Homo sapiens: one gene and its partners. The protein of the gene in region 1 purifies or fractionates together with the protein of each later gene. This does not show direct contact. Each region holds a gene or a part of one and is shown on either strand. Other genes may lie near its edges. The genes, in order: TMEM120B, GDPD5, AGPAT2, SERINC1, ACKR5 and METTL9.

Region 1 (3,918 bases):
ATGCTCTATGCTGTACTTACTCATTTAATCCTCACCAGGCTATTGTCTGTGAGGTAGGCTTGAGGTTATCCCGGCTTTTCAGGTATGGAAAATAAGGCAGAGAGGTTTAAGGACTTTCTGAAAGTCACAAGACTACCTGGGAGGCAGCATCACTCCTCCAACCCCGAGAGTTGAGATGGGGAACTGCGGTTGCGAGAGGCACTGGGGTAGAAGGTGGGAGGCTGGGGTAGAAGGCGGGAGGCTGGGGTAGAAGGCGGGAGGCACTGGGGTAGAAGGCGGGAGGCTGGGGTAAAAGGCGGGAGGCTGGGGTAGAAGGCGGGAGGCTGGGGTAGAAGGCGGGAGGCTGGGGTAGAAGGCGGGAGGCTGGGGTAGAAGGCGGGAGGCTGGGGTAGAAGGCGGGAGGCTGGGGTAGAAGGCGGGAGGCTGGGGTAGAAGGCGGGAGGCTGGGGTAGAAGGCGGGAGGCTGGGGTAGAAGGCGGGAGGCTGGGGTAGAAGGCGGGAGGCTGGGGTAGAAGGCGGGAGGCACTGGGGTAGAAGGCGGGAGGCTGGGGTAGAAGGCGGGAGGCTGGGGTAGAAGGCGGGAGGCTGGGGTAGAAGGCGGGAGGCTGGGGTAGAAGGCGGGAGGCTGGGGTAGAAGGCGGGAGGCTGGGGTAGAAGGCGGGAGGCTGGGGTAGAAGGCGGGAGGCTGGGGTAGAAGGCGGGAGGCTGGGGTAGAAGGCGGGAGGCTGGGGTAGAAGGCGGGAGGCTGGGGTAGAAGGCGGGAGGCTGGGGTAGAAGGCGGGAGGCTGGGGTAGAAGGCGGGAGGCTGGGGTAGAAGGTGGGAGGCACTGGGGTAGAAGGTGGGAGGCTGGGGTAGAAGGTGGGAGGCACTGGGGTAGAAGGTGGGAGGCTGGGGTAGAAGGTGGGAGGCACTGGGGTAGAAGGTGGGAGGCTGGGGTAGAAGGTGGGAGGCACTGGGGTAGAAGGTGGGAGGCTGGGGTAGAAGGTGGGAGGCACTGGGGTAGAAGGTGGGAGGCTGGGGTAGAAGGTGGGAGGCACTGGGGTAGAAGGTGGGAGGCTGGGGTAGAAGGTGGGAGGCTGGGGTAGAAGGTGGGAGGCTGGGGTAGAAGGTGGGAGGCACTGGGGTAGAAGGTGGGAGGCTGGGGTAGAAGGTGGGAGGCTGGGGTAGAAGGTAGGAGGCACTGGGGTAGAAGGTGGGAGGCTGGGGCCCGGGGAGTCCATAGCCCTCCTCCCTCTGAGTGACGCCCCTTCCCCTGTGCCTGCATCTCTGTCCGCAGGTGCAAACGCCATGCCAGTCGGGAGGAGGCGGAGCTCGTTCAGCAGATGGCAGCGAACATCAAGGAGCGGCAGGACGTCTTCTTCGACATGGAGGCCTACCTGCCCAAGAAGAACGGGTAGGAGCTGGCAACCTCCCCACCCCTAGCACAGGCCCATGCCCAGGCCTAGCACAGCTGGTCCATATAACTCTCGCCTTCCTGCTGGTGCTCAGATTGAAGGGGAAAGAGGGAAACAAGGGCAGGAGAGATAAGGAGCCTTCCTTACACATTCCTCCATGAGCCCAGGAGGGGACCTTAGCCACACCGTGTGACAGCAGCATTCCTGGGAGGTCCGTTGCAAGGAACCAGCACTCACTGCATGCCTGCTGACACCTGGGGTTAAGAGGGAAACTGTCCTCTCCCAGGAGAACAAACATGCATTGCGTGCCTCCTGCACGCTCAGAGCTGTGCCGGGACCTCCTGTGATGTCACCTGGTTTATCCTCAACAATCTGTGCGTCAGACCAAGAGATGCCCATTTTTACAAGATTCAGAGACATCAGCGAATGTTTGGCCACACCAGGATGTGAACAGCAGACATTCTGACTCCAAAGCCCACGTTCTTTGTATTTTCCCCCTTCAGAGAAGTCCCCGTTCCCTCCCTTAAGTGATGTCATTGCCACCTTGTTCTGGAGAGAGAGAGCTGCTTACAGCCTCATATCATCATGACCTGACTTAACGCTGCTGAGCACAGTCAGTTCACCCTGACCCTGTTTTCCGGATCAGCCTCGCGCTGAGTCAGAGCCGTGCATTAGGAGGAGGGGCTCCTTTCAGGCCTGTAGCGGGTGGGAGGGAGCTGGCTAGCCCTGTTATATTTTAACCCATTCCTCCGAGCTTCTCCTTTTTGACTGTGTTCGAATAGACCCCATGAGTTAAGTGATGATCATTTTCTGCAGAATGAGCAGCAGCCTAGCATTCGTGACCCTCTTACAGTGTCATGCGTGTCTGCCTTCCTGCCCCTCTGTCCCTAGGCCTCTGTGCCTCTTAACCTCAGTTGGGAATCTTTGGATTGCAAACGATAGAAAACCCAACTCAAGGCCGGGCGCGGTGGCTTGTGCCTGTCATCCCAGCACTTCGGGAGGCCGAGGTGGGAGGATCACTTGAGCCCAGGAATTCAAGACCAGCCTGGACAACATTGTGAGACCACATCTCTACAAAACTTTAACAAAATTGGTGTGCTGGTGTGTACCCATAATCCCAGCTACTTTGGCGACTGAGGTGGGAGGACTACTTGAGCCTAGAGGTTCAAGACTGCAGTGACGCTGGGCACAGTGGCTCATGCCTGTAATCCCAGCACTTTGGGAGACGGAGGCAGGTGGATCACTTAAGGTTAGGAGTTCAAGACCAGCCTGGCCAACATGGTGAAACCCCTAAACCTACTAAAAATACAAAAATTAGCTGGCCTGGTGGCACGTGCCTGTAATCCCAGCTACTTGGGAGGCTGAGGCAGCAGAATTGCTTGAACCCAGGAGGTGGAGGTTATAGCGAGTCCTGATCGTGCCACTGCAGTCCAGTCTGGGTGACAGACCGAGACTCTGTCTCAAAAAAAAAAAAAAACAAAAAACACTGCAGTGAGCTATGATCATACCATTGCACTCTAGCCTGGGCAACAGAGTGAGACCCTGTCTCTAAAAATAATAACAATGATAATAATAATAATAATGAAAAATAAAGAAAATTCTTTAAAAATTGACCTAGAGGTTGTACCTTTGCCTCCACCTCATTGGCTATGCTTAGTCACCTGCTCACATCTGGCTGCAAGGCAGGCTTAGAAATACGGTCTCTAGGGTAGCATGGAGGAGAAATCGACTCCTCACACTGTCCTGTCACAGGTTAATGTCCTTTGGTTAGTTGTCATTCTCACTCGATGTGGGGGCCCATTTGCCCGCTGAGCTTAGGCCCCCTATCTTCTAACATCAGTGCTTGGGATGTGCTCATTAAGTGTGTTGAGTTTGAATGTTGTTGATTCGCACCCACCTGCTAAGGATCATGCCCCTCACAGGTGTTTCCTTCCAGGCTCTACTTGAACCTGGTCCTCGGCAATGTGAACGTGACCCTCCTCAGCAACCAGGCCAAGTAAGTGTCCCCCACCCACCACCCAGACCCACACCTCACACCGCCCCCACACCCACACCCACACCCCAAACCCCACACTGAGAACCCACACCCCACATCCACACCCACACCAACACCCCACACCTCAAACCCACACCCACACTCCACACCAACACCCCACCCACACCAACACCAACACCAACACCACACCCACACCCCACACTGCGAACCCACACCCACACCCACACCCACACCCCACACCACACACTCAAAACCCACACCCCATGCCAACACCCCACCCACACCCTACACCCACACCCCATACTCACACCCCACACTCCACACTCACACTCCACACCTTACAGCCACACCTACACCCCACACCCCATACACAACACCCCACACCAACACCACACACCACACTCCACACCCCATACCCACACCCCACACCCACACCACACACCACACCCCACATCCCACACCCACACCCCACACCCCACACCCACACCTCACCCCACACCCCACACTAACACCCCACACCCACACCA
Region 2 (2,819 bases), on another chromosome or scaffold:
TGCAGGTGGGGACCAGCGTTTCCTTGACAGCTTCCTGACCTGGCCCCTCTCTGCACCAAAGTGTCTCCCTGGGGGAGGGGACCCTGCCTGGGTACCCCCATCCCCCTGCCTCTGGCACTTACAGGGGCCTTCACCACTTGCCCAGGGCAGACCCTACCAAGTTTCTGCCTCTCTCTTCCCATCTTCTCCCTCCCTGGCTCTGCCTCTCCCACTGTTCACTCTTCCTGTTTACCTTTCTCTGCCTCTCCCATCTCTTTCTCTCTCTTCTTTACATTCTATCTCTAACACCCATCCCTGCTTTGCTCCCCGCAACACACAGCCTTTTCCTCATTCCCCTCAGAGGACCCCACAGTGGCTGAGCTTCCTGTTCTGGATATGCCTGGCCGAGAGACCCTGGCCTGACACTGTCCTTCTGGGTTTCAACATGAATTTCCAGGATGGGACCTAGAGCTTAGGGACCCACGTCTCCCTCCGTCTAGTGCCTTAGCCCCTCCTGGGTCAGGCAGCTTCACCAATCAGCTTCTAGGAGGAGATGCTGTCCCTGGCTATGGGACATTCCTTGAGTCATTCCTGTGTCCGCCCAGTTGACCAACATCCACATACACTGGTTGCTGATGCTGTCTGCAGCAGGAGTTGGGCCTTCTCACATGGAGCCCCAGGGTGCTGGGGAGGCCACCCCATGGTGATTCAGTGGCTGGCACAGACACGCTGGGTCTGCTCAGACACAGCCAGGGCAGTGTCATTGTCTCCTGGGGATCAGGAGAGGCCTGGTGGAGGAAGGTACCCTGGGGGACAAGGCCGGGGGAGGATACTCTTTCCCTGTGGGCCTTATTCTTCCATTCATTCACTCAACAAGTACAGGTCAGGCTCCCGGGACACGGCAGGCACTGATGGTACTGGGGCACAGCGATGAACAGAGAGAGATTTGCTCACTGCCCTCAATGATTCATAGGGCAGCCAGCCTCGCCAGGGTGTCCGTGCCACCCCCCGCCTCCTGCTTTCCCCTTGTCTGCCTGCTCTGTTCATCCATCCATCCGCCTGTCCATCTGTCTGTCCACTTCTGCTGCGCTGACCCCATCTAGTAACTCACAGTTGGTTTCTTGTGGAGTCTTGGCTCTCTCCATCCCCCAAGCAGGGTTCAGTCCCTGAGGCAGTTGGGTTCTTGTTCCCAAGTTGATCACCCCCTCCTCCTGGTGGGGACAGGGGTGAGAGTCCAGTGATCCTTCTGCCTAGATCCCAGGAAAGGTCTAAGTTCAGAGGCCAGGGACTGGGGCTAGTTCAGAGGAATGACAATAGTGAAGACAGTGGCCTGGGCTGGGCACAGAAACCTGAGTCCTTTCCACTTAGTGCCTGGTCCCTTCATGCCCTGTGCATGCTCCACCTCCCAGCCCACTCTTGAGTAATTTTACCCCCACCTTGCACCTGTCTCAGCCATCAGAGGGATTCATGCTCTGACCTCCCTCCGCATTAGGACTGCCAGGACAGAGCAGCAGTTGGCCCCACTCCAAGTCACTCTAACCCCCTTGCCTTGGGAACCTGTGCAGACCAGCTCTGGGCAAAGCCCCCTACCACCTGGCCCCACCCCCCTGCTTTCCTTCCCTCCCTCTCAAGGGGTCTCCCCAATGGCTTCACTTAGTCTGGTCATGATGGTGGAGCTATAAGAGACATCAGCTGGGACTCCCTGAGATTGGTGTGTGCCCCAGCTTAGGTCAACAGAGTCGTGCCTACTAAGCTCCTCCTGCTCCCAAATCTGTCCCATTCAAAGAGAGCCAGGTGCATTACTGGGGACACCTGAGACAGAACTAACCAACCCTAGTCCTGGGCCAGGGCTGCTGACTGGCGGCTCTGGAGGTAAGAGGGAGGCCAGGGAGCCCTGGCCGAGAGTCAGTAGGCTCTGATTCAAGCCCCAACTCTGCCCTCTCTGGGCCTATTTCCCCATTGTACAGTGGGACAAGAGTCCTGCTGGTCTCTTGGGCCACATCCAGAGAGGCTCTGGAAGTAGGCAGGGTCTCTGCTCCAAGGGAGGGCTGAGGAGAGACCTGATGCCCACGGGGCCATCTCTGCAGGTGGCGCCTGGGTGGCATACGGAGCTACAACCCTGAGCAGATCATGCTGAGTGCTGCGGTGCGCCGGACCAGCCGGGACGTCAGCATCATGAAGGAGAAGCTTATTTTCTCAGGTACACAGCCCTGCAGACAGGTGGAGGCAGGCCCTGGGCCCAGCTTTCTGCACCCCCACATGCAAACAGATGTGTATGCACACACATTCACATGTGGCACATATGGGTAGGGACAAGGGCACAGACGTACATAAACCCACCGGGATTATACCCACAGACATACAAAGGCATAAGTACACGTGTGAAAACACACACCCCCACACACACAGTCATCCACCCTGTCATCCACCATGGCTTGGTGTCAGTGCCATGGTTGGTGGGCAGGGGTGGGGTAGGGAGAGGAGTCTGTTTTGAAGGCCCATCCCCCTTTGCCTGGTTCGTACTTGGATCCTACAATGTTGGCCTCACCCTTGCTCTTTGCCAGTCCCTGTCAACATTCCCAGTCTGATGGAAGCAGCAGCTACGTATATAAACAGTGGCAGGGAAAGTCGAGTTCCTGCGATGGGAGTGCCGGGCGGGGGGCGGGAGGACGTGGTCAGAGCTGCCTGGGCAGTGAGGAAGGCTTTGGGCGCCTGATACACTGAGATGGGGAGGATGCAGAGGAGGTGCTTTGGTAATGGCTTCAAGATGAGGGCCGAGTGAGCTGAGGGAAGGAAGGGCATTCCAGGTGGGCACGGCATGTGTGCAGAGGTGGCAAGGG
Region 3 (2,825 bases), on another chromosome or scaffold:
TCAAGTACTTTTACGGGCTCCGCTTCGAGGTGCGGGACCCGCGCAGGCTGCAGGAGGCCCGTCCCTGTGTCATCGTCTCCAACCACCAGAGCATCCTGGACATGATGGGTAGGCCGGGCCTCGGGGGTGGCTTCTGGGGTTTGAGTGGGGCCGGCTGAGCTGGGGCTGTGTGGGGCTGGGTCCCGGGGACGAGGACACAGGGCTGCCTGTGCCTGGGCGAGCTCGGCCTCAGTACCTCCCTCAGGGCCAGACACAGAGGCTCGGAGGCCACACGACCCGTCCAGGTAGCCAGGGAGAAGGCAGGGTGCCAGGCAGGCCTGTGGGTGCTCAGCAGCTGTCTTCCAGCGCACGCTGTCTCCCCCTCTCTCTCTGTCTCTGTCTCTCTGTCTCCCAGGCCTCATGGAGGTCCTTCCGGAGCGCTGCGTGCAGATCGCCAAGCGGGAGCTGCTCTTCCTGGGGCCCGTGGGCCTCATCATGTACCTCGGGGGCGTCTTCTTCATCAACCGGCAGCGCTCTAGCACTGCCATGACAGTGATGGCCGACCTGGGCGAGCGCATGGTCAGGGAGAACGTGAGTGTGCAGGGCCGGGCTCGGTGGGGTTGGGGTGGGGCCTGGGCGGGGCCAGGCAGGGGCCAGCTTGTGACTTGGTTTTGGCAGAAAAAACAAGACCCCCACATCATCCATGCTCCGCAGGTGGGGTCCCACGCCAGACCCCTACATCATCCATGCTCCGCAGATGGGGTCCCATGCCAGCTGCTTTGCGAAGTGGGGCTTCTTAGGAGGCGAGGCGGCGTGGCCTTTCTGGGGTGGCCTGGGCGTGAGGTCAGTCCAGGCTCTCCTCTCCCTGCAGCTCAAAGTGTGGATCTATCCCGAGGGTACTCGCAACGACAATGGGGACCTGCTGCCTTTTAAGAAGGGCGCCTTCTACCTGGCAGTCCAGGCACAGGTAGGCTGAGCCCAGCCCTCCCTGGGTGGGTGCAGGCTGGGGAGGCGGGGTCAGGCTGGCTTAAGGCAGCAGGTGACCACCAGCCGAGCTGAGGACCCTTGACACACAAGGGACTCCTCCCACTGAGTTGGGGACAGGGCCTCCTTGCCCCTTCCTGCACTTGCCCCCTGACCGACCAGGGAGGGCAGCCCCTTGGGCCTTTTGCCCACACAGAGCCCAGAGTGACCAGCTGCCCTTGGTGGGCACCCAGTGCTTGGCCTGCGAGGCTGGGCAGGTAGAGGGGTGGGGAGCCGGGCCGCTCGCCTCTGCTGCAGAGCTCTCAGGAGGCTCATTTCTGGGCCTGTGCCTGGCTGGGGTGGGCTTCAGGGCATGGGCAGTGGGTCTGGACAAGCCAGGCTTTTGGTGTAGTATCAGGCCAGACCAGAGCTCAGGGTGGGTGGAGCTCATTGTAAGCAGCGCCTCCAGACTCTGGACTTCCTGGTCCCCAGCCTCCAGGGGTGCAGTGCATCCTAGGGTGTCTGGGAGAGGCCAGGGTATAGCCATTCCCCCAGCACCTGTCCTGCCTCTGCCGCTGTGCTGGGAAGAGTTGCGTCAGGAGAAGGAGCTTTTACCCATCTGGGTGGGGTCTCGCTCAGGGCAGGGGTCTCAGCTCCTTCCCTCACACTGGCCACTAGTGGCCCCCAGTGCCTGGCCCTGTGCAAGGTGGTGGGGAGGGGGCCCTCCTTCCAGAGGCTCCCAGCTAAGGCCGTGAGGCCTGGGGAGCCCCGGAGGCGCTGGGCTGGGTGAGCATCCTTGGGCTCTGATCCCAGCCCTGCCCAGGTGCGGGGCACACCTGCCCAGCCTGGGGCTGATGTCACTTCCCTTTGGGGGCAGAGTGAGGGCTGGATCAGCTCTGGGAGAGCAGAGGGGAGACGGGCGGCTGTGATGGGGTGGCTGGGGGTGGCCGCAGTGCAGCTTCAGCCAGGAGACCCACAGCTTTTCCGTCCCTGCTCCCGGTCCCCAGCCTACCTGCTGGCCCCCTCCCTCCCTGCTGCCAGTCCCCAGCCTACCTGCTGGCCCCCTCCCTCCCTGCTCCCAGTCCCCAGCCTACCTGCTGGCCTCCTCCCTCCCTGCTGCCAGTCCCCAGCCTACCTGCTGGCCTCCTCCCTTCCTGCTGCCAGTCCCCAGCCTACCTGCTGGCCCCCTCCCTCCCTGCTCCCAGTCCCCAGCCTACCTGCTGGCCCCCTCCCTTCCTGCTGCCAGTCCCCAGCCTACCTGCTGGCCCCCTGGAGGTTCCCTGGCTGCCTCGGGTTAATGATCACCCCCAAGTGCCCTTGGATTTGACCCCGGTGACTTCCAGGAACACCAGCAGGCTCCACCCCTCCCCCGGGCTAGGGCTGCCTCCCTCACTGGCTTCCTGAGATGGAGAGGACTGGGAGAGAGGCGTGGGCAGGGAAGAGTGCCATAATCTCCTCCTAAACCGGACAGGGCCCTGCCCCCCTGGCTAGCTGCAGACCCAATATGGGGACAGGTGTGAACCAGGCAAACACGTGCTAGCTCAGGAGGGCTTCCTAGAGGAGATGAGTAAAAATTTGCAGGATGAGCTTATGGAACTCTGGGCCAACCAGAGCAGGACACATATCCCAGGTCCCAGGGGCAGGACAGCCACAAGGACCCATGGCAGCAGCGAAGGCAGGGGTGGGTGGGCCGCAGGACAGGGCTCCCCAACCACATGCAGCCTGGGGTGTGCCTGGCCTGTCCCCAGGGCTGCCTCAGCTGTGCGTCTCCCTGCCTGCAGGTGCCCATCGTCCCCGTGGTGTACTCTTCCTTCTCCTCCTTCTACAACACCAAGAAGAAGTTCTTCACTTCAGGTACCCCCACATGTGTGCACCCGGGGTGT
Region 4 (3,500 bases), on another chromosome or scaffold:
CTTCTGCTACCCATTGTGTATTCCCTTTGCCTTCAGCAAGCAACTCAGCAGGTCGTGGTTTTTTTCCTGGTGGAGTGACCCAATGATCTCCATAAGCGCCTACTTTAACTGGGGGACCACAATGTTGTTTTGGGTCCCCTGGAATCAATGTCAGCTCAGAGCCAGTGTCCAGTAGTCCCCAAAATGTCTTATCATTTCCCTTTCTTTTCCAGCCATTTGCTCTGATGCTTCCTCTAGCGTGGTCTGGGCTTTAATCCATTCCTTTCACATGTTGACTTGCCTTTCTTATCAGATTTTTTTTGCTTTGTTTTTTCCAATTGGAAAGATCTATAATATAAGCTTGGGTTCATGGTAATGGTTAATTTCACTCTCTCTCCAAACTATGTTATCTAAATATGATGATTACCTTGTTTTGTAGTTACAAATATGGCTACACTCCAGATCATAATATCCTCAGAAAGAAGTAGAACATTCACATAAAGTGTAGCTATTTGTTAAGATGCAGTTAAATGATTTCATATATGAAATTATTTGATGAATGTCTATTAATAAAAAATTATATTTCTTTTTGTTTTAGATTTTGGTTCTTTAAATTTGCTGCAGCAATTGCAATTATTATTGGGGCATTCTTCATTCCAGAAGGAACTTTTACAACTGGTAAGAAATCCTTTTTAAGTTGTTTGACATTGATATTTTATAAAGGAATCTGAAATAATTGTCACCTGGAACTATAATTGTTTGTCTTTTTGTTTGGGGGTGTGTGTGTGTGTGTTTCCCCAGTTGGCAAAATCAAGATGTTCATATAAAATTTTATTTTCCTTTTTGTGTACTGTGATTTTGAAAGGAAATGATAAAAATCAAACTAACCAATCACTTATGTATGCTTTCTTTCCCTTTCAGTGTGGTTTTATGTAGGCATGGCAGGTGCCTTTTGTTTCATCCTCATACAACTAGTCTTACTTATTGATTTTGCACATTCATGGAATGAATCGTGGGTTGAAAAAATGGAAGAAGGGAACTCGAGATGTTGGTATGCAGGTAAGCTTTCGTCGCAGAACAACTTCAGTATAGTTGAACTTTGAAGTCGAGAATAGATATGTAGACTAGGTAAATCACTTAGGATTTTTATGGTCTACTTTCCTATGATGAGGTTTTTAATTTAAACTTTGTGAGTGTCAAAATATCACATTGTATCAGCAACTTGGTGAGCAGATCTTTTAGCAGATTAACTGGGAACATAACCCAAGAACCAGGAAAGAATCCAAAAGAACCTGAATAGCTAAAATAAATGTTCCAAAGCATATTACTGAAAGCATGTGCACTTTATAGCCTAATTTTCTAGCCTACAATGGGTTAAAAGCAAAATATTAAAGGGAAGAGGATTGCTAGGAATAGATAAACACACAGTGATACAATTCATAAACAGCAGCAAATAAAAAATATAAAAAGCAACTCGGATGTTTTATTCAAGTGCAAAGGATGCTTTTATGTGCATCAATAACAACTAAAGGAATTCCTATAGTAATGTAATTAATGATTATTTATAATGATGATGTTGAGTCCTTTGGGGTTATACTTGAAAACAGATATCCCAATTCAAATGCTTACAGGGCCAAACCAGGTAACAAAAATGAGGGAACAGGAGGACAGAGTTTAAGTGCATAAGCTTTGTGCAAATAGACTACAATGAATTGGAGAGTATGAATGCCCCATCTAAAGTGCATTACTACTGCTCAGCTCCATTTATTAGTTGCCTTGTGGGAATGTGAACTTAGTATTGCTTGATTTTTCTAATGTTTTTCAAAAGAAGTCATAAATCTGGATTTTCATGCTAAATGACTGAGTTTCAGCTAAAAAAATTTTAAATTGGAGTGCAAGCCAAATCCAGTGTGTCTGCTGGCCTAATATTCCTCTCACACAACTAATTTGTGGTGTTTTATCTCAGTGGTTCAAGTTAAAATAATTTGGTGCTCAAAGAAATAAGCTTTAGTCATTTGGAAATTTCACTTACATTGAATACCTTGTTCTCTAAATGCAAAGTCTAATGCAAGGGTTTCTGTGTCTTTTGTTCCCTGCTGTATCCCCAGGGCCTGGAATGCAGGCATTCAATAAATATTTGTTGGATGGATCCCCTGTCAGCGAGGCAAATCTACATAAATACTTGTATATTAGGCACATATTAGCATAAAGGCTAAACAACTTGTGTATGTTGAAATTTACATAGAAAAAGCATAGGTTGACTTATTAAATAATGACTTACCCTTGCATAATATGTATCTTTTAAGATTTTAGTTCATGAGGAAAAGCATCATTGTTGTGAGGGCTTAACATTAATAATGAAAATAATTTTCTTAATGCCCTTGTTTACAACTGAGTGATAATGGTTCTTTAAAAACCTTAAGTAATATTCCTCTTATAGTTATTTTTCTTTATTTTGAAAATAATGGCTAACATGTAAACATAGTTTGTAAACTCTAATATAGATATTAGTATTAAATCCTATTAGTTTCTTACTAACTTGCCATCCTTGCAAATACATAATAGCTATGTGTAAAAACTAGAATTCTTCAGCAATAAAGGTCAGAATTAATTTTCTTTCCTGCTTTTATAGCCTTTATAATGCTGACAATGTTAGTTGCTTAAAATATATTTTTTGACAAAATGACAGATTGTTTATAAAACAGGTCCCATTTCTAATTGCTAATAATTTCTGATAAAAAGCTAATTATCCAATTATATTTCTTTCACAGCCTTGTTATCAGCTACAGCTCTGAATTATCTGCTGTCTTTAGTTGCTATCGTCCTGTTCTTTGTCTACTACACTCATCCAGCCAGTTGTTCAGAAAACAAGGCGTTCATCAGTGTCAACATGCTCCTCTGCGTTGGTGCTTCTGTAATGTCTATACTGCCAAAAATCCAAGTATGCCCTTTAAAGCATTAGTTTTTATGAAGCTTATACCTTTTTAAGTTTTCAAAAATCTAGAATGATGTCAGACTATTTACCTGTGTTGCTATATATATATATATATATTTTTTTTTTTTTTTTTTTGTAGGAATCACAACCAAGATCTGGTTTGTTACAGTCTTCAGTAATTACAGTCTACACAATGTATTTGACATGGTCAGCTATGACCAATGAACCAGGTGTGTTTTATTTATATTACATGTTCCTAAAGGTTCTGCAGTTGTTGTTTTTCCAGAAATTGTCTTTTTGTGAGATTAAATTACTTAAAAATTAGGCTTCTAGAGGAATAAAGTACAAAGTTTTGATCTTTGATGTATTATTTATTTCACTTAGTTTCTTCCATCACTAACAAAATTATAAGAAGGTTACATGTATACCTAAGAGAAACTGTGAGTTCAGTTTCAGAGCACCACAATGAAACAAGCATCACAGTAAAGCATGATTTTTTGGTTTCCCAGTGCATATAAAACTTTTGTTTATCTTACACTAGTCTGTTGTGTGCCATAGCATTATGTCTAGAAAAACAATGTACATT
Region 5 (4,603 bases), about 65 Mb from region 1:
TTGATACTTTCCTATGATCTGGAGAGAAAGAGATGGGGGTGGGTTGGGCTTTCTGGTAGCTCTGTGTCTCCCTAGAAGTCTGGAAGTTTCCTAGATCCGAAGCTGGTAAGAGGTCAGCTATGAGGAGCTGACTCTGGGACAACTCCTCTTGCTTGTGGGGAGGGAGCAGGATGGACAACGGGGAGGGGAGGGTGTCAGCAAGGAAATGGAGCTGTGTTTCCTGGATGGCCGCGGGTGGAGATACCATCCTGCTGACCCAGCTGCAGGGTGCAGGTCTCAGACCTTGGCTTCGCCCCCACCCCTGCCATCCCCATCCGCCTTCACTTATCATGGCTGTGCATAGGATGCACAGCTAGGGAACGTCCTGCTGGGGCCGCCTGGTTCCTTGGCCTCTGGCCTCTTGTCCCCATAACCTGCATAGTGAGCTGGAAGATCAACAAGCTCACAAACGCAAAAGGAGTTTTGTGAGGTTCCTGCAGAGTTCACTGTTTCCAGCCAGAGTGATTTATGAAATGAATGTGTCTAGTTTCCTCTGCCGAGCACCTCTTTAGCCTCAGCTCCCTTCCCAATCCCAGCTGGAAGTGCAGATTTTTAAAAGATCCAGAGTCCATGGCTATCTCTTCCATTTATTTCACCTTTTTTTCTGCATTGCTCCTTAGACACAAGGACCGAGACAAATAGTACAACACTGAGGGCCTGCTCTCTATCGCTCCTGATCCTGTCTCTCTCTCCACACCTCAGTATTTTAAGATAGATTCAAAATTGACCACGAGTGCTTTGACCCTCCCCTCTACATCCCCCCAAATCTCCCACCTATACTCTCACCTGTGCCTTTTCCTTCACTGTTGGAGGAGTCTGGCCTCTACCTCAGCTGGGTGTAAGAGGCTGAGTGGGAGAGATGGGGGAAGTATTTGGAAGCAAATGGTGTGCCTGAAAGCTCAGGCTTGGCTCAGGGTGGGGGGCTGCTGCAGCAGGCTGGCTATCACCCTTGGTGATGATGATGGAATGCTGGGTGGAACAGGAGGAAGAGGAGGCGCATGTGCCCGCCTTGGTCTGGTCCTTAGGAAGGTAATGGACTACAGCATTCAGGAGCCGGCCCCGGAAGTGTGGGCTGAGAAAGTTGTAAAGGATGGGGTTGATGACACAGTGCAGCATGGAGAAGCAGTCAATGACATCATAGAAGAAGTAGAGCAGGTGGACCAGGTGGCAGTGGAGGGAGATGTGGGTCCCATGCAGTGTGAGCAGCAGCAGGGTCACATGATAGGGCAGCCAGCACATGACAAAGACGGCCACGTAGGCGCACAGCAGCAGGCAGTGGCGCCGGCTCTTGGGTTGTCCTGGCTGCCGCAGCCGGCAGGCTGTCAGCACATTGAAGACTGTGATGAGAGGGAAGGGCAGCAGGAAGCCCAGGATGGTGGTGGACAGGGCCACCGCCAGGGCCCAGGTGCTGTACGTTTCAAAAGGTGCCATGAAGAGGCACATGGGCTCAGGGCCCTCCACCAGCTGGATGTGGACCACCTCAGGCAGCGGGATGATGGCCGAGAGGACCCAGATGCCTGCACACATGGCCCGCCGCACTCGGTGCTGGTAACGCTGCCAGGAGGGGGAGGCGCTGGTGAGGGTGACATAGCGGTCGACACTGAGGCACACCAGGAAGAAGATGCTGCTATACATGTTGACAAAGTAGAAGTAGTGAGTGAAGCGGCAGGAGAAGCTGCCCCAGAGCCAGGTGTAGTCCAGCGTGACCTCCAGCATCCACACGGGCAGAGACAGGACAATGCCCAGGTCCGCGATGGCCATGTTGAGGATGTAGAGGTTCATCAGCCCTGCCCGGCCTGAGCCGCGCCAGTTGACGCATATCACCAGGAGGTTCTCCACCAGCCCAACCACAAACATGGCCAGGTAGAGGGCAAAGAGGACCACGCGCTTGGTGCTCTGGCTGAGCTCCACGTGGCACTCAGACAAAGTGTGGTTGAAGAGGTCAAGCAGCTCGGTCCAGTTGTGGATCTCTCCAAGGTCACTGGTAGGCACTGCGGTGACCCCCTCCGAGGGGCCAGGCCCCCAGCTGGGTTTCACTGACATTGGGACCAGCACACGCCTATTGGGATGAAGGGAGGGTTGGAAGGGAAAGCAGACCTCGAGAGCCTTGTGTCCTCAAGGTAGAGGCCAGAGGGAGTCGGGGGCTTTGGGGAAAGATTCTGGGGCTAAGGCAAGAAAGGGAAGTTTAGCTTTCAAACTGTGAATAAATAATACACAACTCACTTGCTAGCTCTGACCCAAGAGCAGAGATACTTTCTTAAGGGGTTTCAGCTGGAAGAGGCCAGGACTGTTGGTGTCCACCAACATTTCTCCCCACCCCCAGCCAGTTCCCCCTCAACAACCCCCTCAATCCCCCCACACCCACCATTCCTAGGTGGTCTCCAACCTCCACCTCTCTCCTGGCACTTCATTCCTCAGCCCTTTTGCACAGATCTTTATTGCTCTTTTTCTGTCTTGTTATTTGGACCGTGAGTGTGGAACACACACACACACACGCACACCACACAATCTGATTCATCCCTAGGAAAACCTGTGGATCATGCAGGATAGCCAGTTGTCTCCAAGCCCTGATTCCCATCTTCCCTGGGAGAGGGCGACACTCACCTGAGTTTCCCTTGGGAGCCCCTCGGTCCTGGAGGGAGGGCCGGCAGGTCCAGGCTATGGGGAGCTGTGAGGAGGCTGGGGGGCCCTTGGCTGTGGGGCTGGCTTCCCTGCTGGCTTCACGGCCGCCCTTCTCATCCGGGAAGTAGCTGTCACTGCTGAGGCTCTGTAGGGAGGGATGGGGTTTTTCCTGCATTCCCCCAATCCGGTTACAGGGGATGTCCCAGCAAAAGACCCGGTGTGCCAGTGGCGGGGAGGTCATACTGCCAGCATTAAAATCCCAGCTCCTCCCTCACCCGCTGAATGAATTTACCTCTTTCCTCAGCCTCAGTGCTCTCCTCTGCAAAGTGGGGTCTATTATCTACTAAAAGGGATGCTTTGAGAATTAAAGGAGCTGTTGAGGGAGGGAAAGTGCTTAGCTCAGGTGGGGCCTGTGGCAAATGCTTTACGTATGTATGTATTTTCCTCTCCCTAAGTCAGCTTGGAATCCCTCTCTCCCCTGTCTTGATTCCTACTAGAGTGAAATTGGATGTGGGGGTATAGGGGAGGGTCAAAATAAATCTGAACATCAGTTGGGCTTTTAATAACTCTGGCCCACCCCTGCCATTCTCCCCAGCCCCTCACAGGGCTGTGAGCTCCCTGCCTTCATCTTGTGATTGGAGGTGAGAATCTGGGAAAGAAAAGATTGAATGGCTGGGCATGGTGGCTCACGCCTGTAATTCCAGCATTTTGAGAGGCTGAGGCAGGAGAATCGCTTGAGCCCAGGAGGCGGAGGTTGCAGTGAGCTGAGATCAGGTCACTGCACTCCAGCCTAGGTGACAGAGTTAATAAAAAAAAATAAAAATAAGATTGAATGCGGGGTGTCAAGGGGGCTTTGTCAAAGCTTCAGGGAGATTCCTGAGTAGGGAGGGAGAGAGAGAATGGCGCCCTCCCCCTGTGGCTCTATACTTCTCTGCGTGAAGGGTGTGGTGGGTGGCTGGCAGGGGATGAGCAGGGGATGGGGCGTGGGGTAGGGAGAGCAGACTTCTCTCTCCCGCCAAGCTAGAGGGTAAGGGACTCTAAGCCACGTGTTATGGGTAAACATTTTGTGTCAGCAGAGCTTCCTGCCCTTCAGAGCGCTTTCACCTCACTTCATCTCGTTGGATTCTGGAGATACCCCTGTGGGGAGGATGGATTTCTTCACCCTCTTTGAGGCCCAGAGAAGTTGTCTGTTACACAAGCCACACTTGGCAGATGGCAGAGTGGCCTAGGCCTGAGCCAAAGGTGTGTCGGCTGGACGGGATTGAGTATATATTAAGTCGAGGTGAAATTCCCATAGCATAAAATTAACCATTTTAAAATGTGTGATTTAATGGCATTTAGACATGCACATTGTGCAAACACCACCTCTGTCTACGTGCTAAACATCTTCATTACCCGCAAAGAAAACCCCATAACCATTAAGCAGTCAATCCTATTCCCCCCACCACCAACCTTCTGCTTCCTGTCCCTGTGGATTTACCTATTCTGGATACTTAATAGAAAGGGAACCATATCATATGTGACATTCAGTGTCTGTGTTTTTTTTTTTCCACTTAGCATGTTTTCAAGGTTCATTCACTTTGGAGCATGCATCCGTACTTCATTTCCTTTCATGGCTGAGTAATATTCCCATATATATATATATATATATACACACACACACACCACATTTTCTTTATCCACTCAAAGAGAACATTTTTTAAAAGTTTGCTCACTGATTCTTTTATTATGGTAAAATATATGTAAGGTTTACCACGTTAACCATTTTTAAGTGTACAATTCAGTGGCGCTAAGTGCATTTACACTGCTGTGCAACCATCAGCACCATTTATCTCCATGGAAGGGAATATTTTTCATTTTGTAGTTTTGTAGTTTTCTTAAACCTTCCACTTACATATCAGATCACTCCAAGATCACAAAATCTATCATGGCCGGTGCAGTA
Region 6 (3,918 bases), on another chromosome or scaffold:
AGGGAAGTGGCTGGGAGGCCAGACTGGTCTCACAGACTTATTTTACAGCCTATGAAATAAGAATAGTTTTATATTTTTAAATGGTTACCAAGAAAATATCAAAATAACATTTTGTAATACATGAAGTTTCATTTATGGAATTCAAATTTATTTCAGTGTCTACAAATAAAGTGTTTTTTTTTTGAGATGGAGTCTCGCTTCGTCACCCAGGCTGGAGCGCAGTGGCCCAATTTTGGTTCACTGCAACCTCTGCCTCCCAGGTTCAAGCAATTCTGATGTCTCAGCCTCCCGAGTAGCTGGGATTACAGGTGAACACCACCACGCCCAGATAATTTTTGTAGTTTTCAGTAGAGATGGGGTTTCACTATGTTGGTTAGGCTGGTCTCAAACTCCTGACCTCAAGTGATCCTTCTTCCTGGGCCTCCCAAAGTGCTGGGATTACAGGCGTGAGGTACTACACCCAGCCCACAAATAAAGTTTTATTGAAAGAGAACTACCACATTCATTTACCTGTGGTCTATGAGCTCCCTGGCTACAATAGCAGCATATTTGCTACTGTATGGCCTGCAAGCCTAAAACATTTACTACGTGGCTTCTTACAGAATAAAGACTTTTTCCAAGAGAAATTCCCAGCTTCCTTAACAAACAGCTTTTTTTTTTTTTTGGAGACAGGGTCTCACTGTGTCACCCAGGCTGGAGTGTAGTGGCACAATCTCAGCTCACTGCATCCTCGACCTCCTGGGTTCAAGCGGTTCTCATGCCTCAGCCTCTCCATAGCTGGGATTACAGGCACGTGCCAGCACACCTGGTTAATTTTTGTAGTTTTAGTAGAGACAGGGCTTCACCATGTTGGCCAGGCTGGTCTTGAACTCCTGGCCTCAAGTGATCTTCCCACATCGGCTTCCCAAAGTGCTGGAATTACAGGAGTGAGCCACTGCAACCAGCCTCCAACAGCATATTCTTAATCACAGGTTGCAGGGTGGGTAGATTGACTCACTGGGAAGAAATAGAGGCAGGCAGTGAGAAACTAGTAGATATTGTCACTTTGCAATGTTGGCAGACTCAGAATTTAAAAAGACAACAACAAAAAACTTAGGATCTATTCTTTTTGATGCATTGCACCTAGTGCTTAAAGTTAATGCAACTATTATGGAGCTACTGAAACTTTGAAAGGACCCTTAGGCCCCAGGTTCTTGGTAATAATAGCGGTTCAGTAGCTTCTCAATTGATGGAGTGAAAAAATTGTTATAGAACTCGCTGAACCAAACCACAACGATTTCTCCGGGTGACATACTGCAAGGTTTTTTAAAAGCACAGATAACATTCAATATCTGGAATTATTAAGTTGTAACTTAAAATTGCAAGTATGTGTATATTTTTGTGACTTATTTTTTCACTTTCTTATATAAGCTCAGAACTGCGCTATGCCACAAGTGATGAAGAATTCAAGAAAGAATTAAAATCCTTTTTTTTCCCCCAAATGAAAAAATACTTGGACAGCATAGCCAGAGCCAAACACTGTGCTAAAGGACAGAGTGTTTCCTGTCCCTTTACCCCTCACTTACCCTGTGGAGGCAGACTGGAGTCAGGCATGAGTTAACAATGCTTCAAGGATAGTCAGCCAGCTAAGCCGGACAGACACTGATGGATTGGCGTCCTTCTCTGAACTGCCTTCGAGAGTCTGGAGGCCTTTGCAGCTGAATACCAAAGAGACTTCAGAAAGGATTTCTTTGCTTCCTCATAATCTGTGTTGAAACCCCAAGTGTTTGCTTCAGTTTCACAGAACACTAGAATCTCTTTCTTGTGCTGGATATACCAGGAGTCTTTATGTTTCTCTTTGAAGGTGCCCTAGAAGACCCTAATAGCTTCCAGTAAAAAGCTCTGTTGTGTAGACCCTCTGAAGCTTTGTTAAAATTTTAGGATTATCCTGTCCTATGGGGAGTGAGTATTTAGTATTTGCAATGAGGATTGCCAGTAATTGGTTATTAAATCAAAGCTGAAGCCATTTAATCTGTTTTAATTGATTCCCCTCATGGATATGAGGGTGCCTGTCACTGTACACATTGAAATCTCACATAAAGAGGTTATTGGGTTGAGTTTATATTGTTTGTGGGAAAATGGTGAATGGTCTGAATATTTACGCCTATGCTGTGCTTAAATGCAAGGTGTGCATGGTGAAATGTCTGGACTGAGTTGACTGCATTGTAAAATCTTAGAATGTGAATTTTGAATCCTTAGCTGTCAAGCTCTGTTGATGGAGTTGGTCTGGCCAACTTAGAAAAGATTCTGTGTTCATAGATCCTGAGCAGTGGAGCTTTTCTGATTGTTTTTGGTAGCCCTGAATGCCTTGGGTCTTTGATTACCCATTTCTTTTGAGAATGGCTGGATGCCTAGACCTACAGTTTGGTTTTTAGGCATTCCCTTGAACTGTACTTCTCCTCTGACCAGCCCTTGCCTTGGAGAGAAAGGGGAAGGAAATATGAAGAGCTACTGGCCTTCTATTGTGTGCCAGGCACTTCAAATATATTATCCCCAGTAGTCCACATAGAACTCTTGGAGGTTGGTGGTATCATCCGCACTTTACATACAGAAAAGTGAGGGTGAGAGAGAGAAGAGACTTGCTCACCAGCACAGAGTTAATGGATGATAGAGTTGGGCTTTGCACCCAGCTTTGGTTTCAAGGCAACACATTTTCTGCTGCTTTATGATGCCCCTCCTGGTAAACCTTGTGTTGTCTGAGGGGTGGTAAAAATAGGCTTGCCTTCTTTTTTTTTTTTTTTTTTTTTTTTTTTTTTTTTTTTTTTGAGAAACAAGTTCTTACTCTGTCACCCAAGTTGGAATGCAGTGGCCTGATCATATCTCACTGCAGCCTCAAACTCCTGGCCTCAGTACATCCTCCTGCCTCGGCCTCCTGAGTAGCTTCTAAATCTTTTGTAGAGGCAGGGTCTTGCCATGTTGTTCAGGCTGGTCTCAAACTCCTGGCCTCAAGCAGTCCTCCTGCCTCAGTCTCCCAAAGTGCTGGGATTACAGGCGTGAGCCACTGCTCCTGGCCTAGGCTTGCCTTCTGAATAGGAAACTGCCCTCATTCTAGTGAGGCCTCTGTGTAGACACTGAAGTTAGGTAGCTGTGTGCACAATACTTGTTGAAGATTTTGTAGTTTGTGAATTAGATGAGAATAAGACAGCTGCTTGAAGTTCTGGCCTTTATCTGGTTTGTGCATGCTTTTTTTAAGGCTTAAAGTTGAAAAAAGATTCTTACATGTATTGTCATTTTTTCCTGACATCAGCCATTCTCTAATTTTCCATCACCAAGTGGGTGTTTAATTGTTCAATCCTGTTCTGACATTAACTACCTGGAGTTAGGGTCACGCTTTACAGAGTTAAGAGCTCAGTCCCACAAGACTGCCCTCACTTCAGAGGCCAGCTGGAAGTCCTGGGTTCCCAGGCTGCCAGTGCTTTTGTCCACCTTGAACAAATTTGGGAGTTCCCACAACTCTACCTTCACCCTACCCCACCCCACCCCCTAATTTCCTATAATAGAATGACTCATAGAACTTAGGAAAACACAGGTGCGGTGGCTCACGCCTGTAATCCCGGCACTATGGGAGGCTGAGGTGGGTGGATCACGAGGTCAGGAGATCAAGACCATCCCGGCTAACAGGGTGAAACCTGGTCTCTACTAAAAATACAAAAAAATTAGCTGGGCGTGGTGGCACGTGCCTGTAATCCCAGCTACTGGGGAGGCTGAGGCAGGAGAATCGCTTGAACCGTGGAGGCGGAGGTTGCAGTGAGCTGAGATTGCGCCACTGCACTCCAGCCTGAGCGACAGAGCGAGACTCCGTCTCAAAATAATAATAATAATAATAATAAACCACTTAGGTTTACTGGTTTATTACAAAGGATACAATTGGGGAACGGC

What was found.
Region 2: the proteins of TMEM120B (region 1) and GDPD5 purify together in Homo sapiens (co-immunoprecipitation; one large-scale study listed by IntAct). This does not show direct contact.
Region 3: the proteins of TMEM120B (region 1) and AGPAT2 purify together in Homo sapiens (co-immunoprecipitation; one large-scale study listed by IntAct). This does not show direct contact.
Region 4: the proteins of TMEM120B (region 1) and SERINC1 purify together in Homo sapiens (affinity purification with mass spectrometry, with the first as the bait; one large-scale study listed by BioGRID). This does not show direct contact.
Region 5: the proteins of TMEM120B (region 1) and ACKR5 purify together in Homo sapiens (co-immunoprecipitation; one large-scale study listed by IntAct). This does not show direct contact.
Region 6: the proteins of TMEM120B (region 1) and METTL9 purify together in Homo sapiens (affinity purification with mass spectrometry, with the first as the bait; one large-scale study listed by BioGRID). This does not show direct contact.

What each region holds. Positions count from the first base shown.
Region 1 is NC_000012.12:121,747,049-121,750,966, forward strand, and holds part of TMEM120B (transmembrane protein 120B), read left to right. Parts: intron 1-1,277; coding exon 1,278-1,394; intron 1,395-3,331; coding exon 3,332-3,391; intron 3,392-3,918. UniProt on the Homo sapiens protein: Necessary for efficient adipogenesis. Does not show ion channel activity.
Region 2 is NC_000011.10:75,436,296-75,439,114, reverse strand, and holds part of GDPD5 (glycerophosphodiester phosphodiesterase domain-containing protein 5), read left to right. Parts: intron 1-2,066; coding exon 2,067-2,179; intron 2,180-2,819. UniProt on the Homo sapiens protein: Glycerophosphodiester phosphodiesterase that promotes neurite formation and drives spinal motor neuron differentiation.
Region 3 is NC_000009.12:136,674,706-136,677,530, reverse strand, and holds part of AGPAT2 (1-acyl-sn-glycerol-3-phosphate acyltransferase beta), read left to right. Parts: coding exon 1-108; intron 109-394; coding exon 395-570; intron 571-850; coding exon 851-946; intron 947-2,723; coding exon 2,724-2,796; intron 2,797-2,825. UniProt on the Homo sapiens protein: Converts 1-acyl-sn-glycerol-3-phosphate (lysophosphatidic acid or LPA) into 1,2-diacyl-sn-glycerol-3-phosphate (phosphatidic acid or PA) by incorporating an acyl moiety at the sn-2 position of the glycerol backbone.
Region 4 is NC_000006.12:122,451,308-122,454,807, reverse strand, and holds part of SERINC1 (serine incorporator 1), read left to right. Parts: intron 1-577; coding exon 578-657; intron 658-900; coding exon 901-1,038; intron 1,039-2,750; coding exon 2,751-2,920; intron 2,921-3,053; coding exon 3,054-3,144; intron 3,145-3,500.
Region 5 is NC_000012.12:56,992,689-56,997,291, reverse strand, and holds the start of ACKR5 (G-protein coupled receptor 182), read right to left. Parts: upstream 2,801-4,603; 5' UTR 2,644-2,800; intron 2,099-2,643; 5' UTR 2,083-2,098; coding exon 868-2,082; 3' UTR 1-867. UniProt on the Homo sapiens protein: Orphan receptor.
Region 6 is NC_000016.10:21,602,493-21,606,410, forward strand, and holds part of METTL9 (protein-L-histidine N-pros-methyltransferase isoform 1 precursor), read left to right. Parts: intron 1-3,918. UniProt on the Homo sapiens protein: Protein-histidine N-methyltransferase that specifically catalyzes 1-methylhistidine (pros-methylhistidine) methylation of target proteins.